2 linked regions of the Homo sapiens genome follow. The protein of the gene in region 1 interacts with the protein of each later gene in a biochemical or structural test. Each region holds a gene or a part of one and is shown on either strand. Other genes may lie near its edges.

Region 1 (3,017 bases):
ATACCAAAGTGCTGGGATTACAGACGTGAGCCACCATGCCTGAACAAAACTACATAAATTTTTAATTTTTTTTGTGGAAATGGAGTCTCACTATGTTTCCCAGGCTGGTCTCAAACTCTTGGCTCTGTCCTGCCACAGCCTCCCAAAGTGCTGGGATTATAGGTGTGGCGCCTGGCCCGTACAAATACTTTTTATTCTAGGCTTAACTTTTACATTGGCCCTAGCTAAATAGAAATCTCATCACTCAGGAATTAATCCTCATTTAATCAAACGGGTAGGGTGTAATCTTAGGAAATTATTGATTGACTCTACCTGATTGGATTTGTAGTTAATAGCTAATTAGGTTAATAACTAAATTCACAAGGCACAGTTTTATTTGATCTCTTTTAAATTGCTCTTAAGGATGTAACAAAGAGTGCGTGGGATGCCCTGAGGGCAGGCATTCGACTTCTGGAGCAGCAGCTTAACTTCTGAAATTCCTCCGAACCATGTGTCCACACCTCGTCTGGCTGCATCCGTGGGCCAGATGTGGGTGGTGAATCCTGTGGATTAGAGGTGGTGCTAGGTAGCCCCCAAGTGACTGCAGTGGTGGGTCCACAGGCAGCCTGCAGAGCCCGCCCTGCAGCATGCCAGCTGGGCCTGTGATGGGGCATCCAGAGGGTGTTGCCCTGAACACTCAGCATGTCTCCGCTGACACAGTGTGCTCAGGCTTTGTTAACATGGGGCCTGTTGGCTGCAGAGACTCAGGAGTTGAGAGTCTAATTTTTGGACCTGCTGATGGTTAAGTCATAGTGAGTCAGTGTTAACGCGCAAAGCGTTTGACGAGTCCAATGTGCTTCCATACTAAGCAGCACCAGGTTTCTTTTGCTAAAATTGAACTCCTGTGAAAAATTCAGAGTGACTAAGTTCATTCAACAAAGACCGTGGGAGCCCGAGGCTGGTAAACAATGAGTCCATCCCGCATCCCAGGGGACTCTGGTGGCAGTGCAGTTTTGCCGAGAGGAGTTTTAATTTAAAAAAATGCAATCAGGAGACCAGCAGGTCCTGGAATGAGTCACCCTCAGTGCATCTGCGGACTCATCAGACACCCCAGGCCGGCTTCGGGTGGGGAATGCACTAGAACGAAGTGACACCTTTGACTAAACGAGGCCTCCCCCGAGTACTCAGAGTGGCCCAGACCCCTCTCCTCAGGGGGCTAGCAGGCTTCAGCTCTCATTTGAAAGGGCCGATATCAAGCAGAGTTGTGCTGAGGCCAGAAACCCCCACGGGCAGGTCCTCCCAGGGCTGGGAGTGGGCATGCCGTGGGGCCGGCGCTGCCAGGACAGGAGGGTGGCCACGAGCTCCAGCTCCACAATGCCAGGCCGACCCTGCCGTGGGGCTGGGGCTGGGACTTGCTGTGCTCTGTTGGCAGCAGCTGTTCCTCAGGGGTTTCCAGGCTCTTGGAGATCAGGGACACTCATTTCTCTTGATCATGGCTGATACAAGCATCCCTCTCTGTGTCAGGTCCTCTCCATGGAGAAAGCATTTCTAGGTGTTTGGGCTGGTGCCCGCAGCCTGTGCCTGTCCTGGGAGGCAGGGCCCATCCACAGGTGCCCATCAACACAGCTTCCCCAACGCCTGGGCAGCACACCGGATCCCTGATGTCTAGGGAAGAGTCTTCTAGGTCCCCAGACCCCACCCCTCCTGCCCTTGATCAAGAGACCAGTTCACTACTCAGATGCACGTCTCCTTGGTGCCTTGACCATTCATGTGACCTTTTTGGCATCACAGATCAAGTGTCTGCAGATGGGCCCAGGGCCTGTAGGTCAGACATTGCCCTTTTTCCCCAGCCTCAAGCACAGGGGACACAGGGTGGGCTAGGCCAGAGCGCCACCTCCTCAGAGAGGCCCCTGGGCTCCCCACTGAGCATGATGAGCCTGGGTGAGGGGAGGCGCCTGCTGCGGTTGCCCCGGGTGGAGGCCGCATGTCCGGTGTCCCTTGGTCATTGCTGGTCTTCGCCTGGGGGCGGGCTGGTCAGGAGACCGATTGGGTAACACTCCTGATTTCGGCTTCTCTGAAACATGAGAGGCTGCAGTGCTGGAGCCACTGCCCAGGGTCCCTACCTGCACCCCTGCCTGGCTTGTCACATGCTCTGTGTCCAGCCTGGTCATGCCTGTCCTTTTCCCCACCTCCCCTCCGTAGGCAAGGTGCCCGGCGACGACTGCCCGCTGGTGTGGGGCCAGTGCTCCCACTGCTTCCACATGCATTGCATCCTCAAGTGGCTGCACGCACAGCAGGTGCAGCAGCACTGCCCCATGTGCCGCCAGGAATGGAAGTTCAAGGAGTGAGGCCCGACCTGGCTCTCGCTGGAGGGGCATCCTGAGACTCCTTCCTCATGCTGGCGCCGATGGCTGCTGGGGACAGCGCCCCTGAGCTGCAACAAGGTGGAAACAAGGGCTGGAGCTGCGTTTGTTTTGCCATCACTATGTTGACACTTTTATCCAATAAGTGAAAACTCATTAAACTACTCAAATCTTGCTGGAGGCCTCTGGGTGCCTGTGTTCTCGGCATATAGATGTGGTCTCGGTGTGTTTTGATATGAAAACTCTCATGAATAAACATCTCCGTGAAACGCCAAGGCCCTCGTCAAACCCTGAGTCATGACTGGGAGGAGAAGGAGCAGGATCAGACGGTAGAGCCTGGGGCATGCTCTTCAGGCATGCTCTTGCCTGCTGGATTGCCGGCGGCGGCCCTGGGACCCTCCCTCAGGCTGGCTCTGAGGGACCCTGGCTGTGCAAAGCTGGCGGCCACTGCTTGTGGCGCCTCCAGACTGAAGGCCACCATCTCTGAGTGGGCGTCCATTGTTCTCACTGGGACTGTCTGCAGCGGGGCTGGGCCTCCCACAGTGTAGGGATCAGTGTCCTGACACTGGGAAGTGTGTCCACACGTCTGAGGCTTCCCTTCCTAGGGAAAGGTGGCCCTGGGAGGCTCCTTTGTGTGCCTCTGCTCCCCACAATCGTGGTGGGAAGGGGCCGCTG
Region 2 (3,500 bases), on another chromosome or scaffold:
CCAGCTACTCAGTGGGCTGGGAGGTGGGAGGATCGCTTGAGCCCAGGAGGTCAAGGCTACAGTGAATTGTGATCGTGCCATCGAATTCCAGGTTGGGCAACACAGCGAGACCCAGTCTCAAAAGAAAAGGTGAGTCATTTGGTTTTCAGTGCAAAGGAATATTTATTTACACACAAGATTAGTTTATTTCATAAGGTAGTTGTAATACTACATATACAGCCATATCATCAAAAGGTAAAAAACATGAGTAATAATTACGAAAGCAACTATATTAGAGATTAGAATATAAAACTGTATTCATAAATAATTTTTCAATTTACAAAGCACTTTTTCATGTTATGCCATTTTATTGACCTTCACAAAAACCCTACCTCACGGTACTGATTACCACTAAATAAATCCTTTTGAAAAGAGTGCAACATAGATCAGACATAACTCTAATTAGACTGGCACACAGAATACAAGTATTTTGTTTACGCCAATAAAGCAGCTTGCTTTTTACTACTGAATTACTCCTAAAAAGTGTATGAACTTAAGTGAATTGAAATATGCACTTTAAATGCAACTAGAGATTAAACAGGACCTTGCAGTTAGATATAATAAAACCTGGAAACTCAGTAGAAGTACGTTATTTAAAAAACAAAAGCAAAAAAATGTTAAAAGCAGTTTTACTGGGGTAGTAGGTATATGTACAATTTTTTTTTTTAGTTTGTTATATACTTGCTACCTCTCAAAACACATCTTTTTAAGAAAACATTGAAGTAATAAAAAAATCCTTTAGAAATCTTATAAAGTATTTTGGGGGACAGAGATGACTATTAACAGGGAGTGTTTTATTACATTCTAAAAAGATTCATCACAAGGTTCCACACAAAAGTCAAATACCTGGTTCTAATCTATAACATATGTTTCCAGTTTAAACTGGCCTTTAAAAGCAGTGTCTTGCTTTTGAGAAAAAAGTAGAAATTCACCATACACATACACAGATGTTGATAGCTAAGAGGGAAAATGCTTAAAATTTAAGTTTATATACTCTTAGCAGTGCCTCTGTGTTAAATATTTTATCTATTTCCTTAAGTATAGTTCACTCTAACAGTTCCACATATACCTATGTGGAAAAGAATTAACTAAGAGCAACTTAGTAAGTGATTTGTTTCAAAGATACCCTCTTAGAAGATTATGATAACTTTATGTGATGTTTTACCTACTTTCAGTTTCATTTCTCTTGATCATGCCTTGGCACTCAGCTAAGATAGTCTCTTTAAATGATGTCACCAGGGCATTTACACAGCATTCCATGAGCTGAAATATATCAAAAATTAGTCAAGGCTACTATAAGCTGTATAGCACAAATCTATTCTAACTCACAAAATAAAACAATATTGTTCAACAAAAAAAAAATTATACTGAAAGTAGATTTCACTTACCTTAACTATAGGATTATTGAAGATGGATATGCTATACTAGTTTACCAAAGTGTATTTTCCCCTAAGGAAAAAAACTATAGAACTAGACTCTCTTTAGAAATTTTAACAAAAGTCCTCAAGGAGGGGAGAGAAAAATATACAAAACCAAACTTTGATTAACTCTTCCTGTCTGGAGAGAACCTGTTTTAAAATTAGGTTATAAAATTCTAGAAGTGTGAATACATTCATTCAACAAACCATTATTGGATGCCTACTACGTGCAGGCACTAAGGAAGTATTTAAGAGACAAGAATAAGATATAATTCCTGCTCTCGAAGAGATCACTGTCTAATTGAGAGTGAGGAGGGCAGTAAACCTACACTGCTAACTAAATATAACTCAGTTAAGTGGCATCACACACATACACAAACACACACAAAATAAAAAAAAACTTAGAAACTACTTTTTTCTAGGGTAGTTAAAATGGCCTCATCCACAAGTTGGTATCTAAATGGGATCCTGTAAAGTAAGTACAAGCCCTAAAATAGGTTACGTATTCTAGGAATACCAGGAAGCTTAAAATGGTAGAGAAGAAACAGACAGTGGAAGAGAAGGCTAGAAAGATAGGCTGCAACCAGATTATGAATGAAAATCTATGATTTGGGGTTTTATTTCATAGGTAGGGAAGGAAGAACAAAGGAAGGTTTTTTTGTTTGTTTAAGAGACAGAGTCTTGCTCTGCTGCCCAAGCTGGAGTACAGTGGCATTACTACATAGCTACTATCATACCTCACTACAGCCTTGAACTCCTAGGCTCAAGTGATCCTCCTGCCTCAGCCTCTTGAGTAGCTAGGACTACAGGGATGTACTATCAAGTCTGGTTAATTTTTTAAACTTTTCTGTAGAGATGATGTCTTGCTATGTTCCCCAGGCTGGTCACAAACTCCTGGTCTCACATGATCCCCCTGTCAGTCTCCCAAAGTGTGGGATTACAGGTGTGAACCATCAGGCCTGGCCCCAAGGAAGTTTTAAACAGAGGATAAATGTAATGAGATTCTCCTCTCCTCAAGTCATTATTAAAGATCAGTATAATGGTAGTAAGGCAGGTGGTAAGGAGTGGGTGGTTGGGATATGGTAACGAGGCTGTTGAACTATTTCAGGTAAGATAGCAAGGGTCTAGTGCTCTAGGAGGCCATCAGGAAAATCTAAATGAGGCAGAAGATATCATGTCATCTCTGCTCCCTCGTGTCATGTAATTATTTACTTCTCTTTTGGGGATCAGATGAAATTAATAGGTTGTGAGGACTAAAGTTAAGTACAATAAGGCTGATATATTTCTTCTGAAAAACAAATCATCTATCTGTAAATTAAGGGAGGCAATTATGTGTCCCTTAAAAATTTTTTATTAAAAATTCCTTTGGAATTGACATAATGTTGGTAACTACTAAAGCTGAATTTAGGTAATGGGGATTCATTATACTGTTCTTCCTACATTGTAAAAATGCTTAAAATTTTCCGAATAAAGAATTTTCTGTGGTCCCTGCGAGTTGGGGGGCTGAGGTGGGAGGGTCAGTTAAGCTCAGGAGGTCAAGGCTGCAGTAAGCCTTGATCATGTCACTGCAGTGTAGTCTGGGCGACAGAGCAAGACTGTCACAAAACAAAACAAAACAAAACAAAAAAAAAGGTTTTTTCAGGCTCCTCTACAAGAATGATGCTGATGACTTTTAAATGCATATATCCATGTATATTTCTGTCCTAAGAAAATAATACACATGGCTGGGCGTGGTGGCTCATAGCCTATAATCCCAGCACTTTGGGAGGCTAAGGCGGGCGGATCACCTGAGGTCAGGAGTTCAAGACCAGCCTGACCAACACAGAGAAACCCCATCTCTACTAAAAATTAGCCGGGCATGGTGGGTGCCTGTAATCCCAGCTACTCGGGAGGCTGAGGCAGGAGAATTGCTTAAACCTGGGAGGCAGAGATTGCAGTGAGCCGAGATCGTGCCATTGCACTCCAGCCTGGGCAACAAGAGCAAAACTCCGTCTCAAAAAAGGAAAAAAAAAAGAAAAATAAAGAAAAGACTACACATATAAA

What was found. Proteins that work in one complex are often made in the same cells at the same time.
Region 2: the proteins of ANAPC11 (region 1) and CUL5 form a complex in vitro, tested with the Homo sapiens proteins (one study listed by BioGRID).

The regions. Positions count from the first base shown.
Region 1 is NC_000017.11:81,897,739-81,900,755, forward strand, and holds the end of ANAPC11 (anaphase-promoting complex subunit 11), read left to right. Parts: intron 1-1,503; coding exon of another isoform or gene 1,504-1,804; intron 1,805-2,181; coding exon 2,182-2,327; coding exon of another isoform or gene 2,328-2,412; 3' UTR 2,413-2,517; downstream 2,518-3,017. UniProt on the Homo sapiens protein: Together with the cullin protein ANAPC2, constitutes the catalytic component of the anaphase promoting complex/cyclosome (APC/C), a cell cycle-regulated E3 ubiquitin ligase that controls progression through mitosis and the G1 phase of the cell cycle.
Region 2 is NC_000011.10:108,067,898-108,071,397, reverse strand, and holds part of CUL5 (cullin-5), read right to left. Parts: intron 1,303-3,500; coding exon 1,209-1,302; intron 1-1,208. UniProt on the Homo sapiens protein: Core component of multiple cullin-5-RING E3 ubiquitin-protein ligase complexes (ECS complexes, also named CRL5 complexes), which mediate the ubiquitination and subsequent proteasomal degradation of target proteins.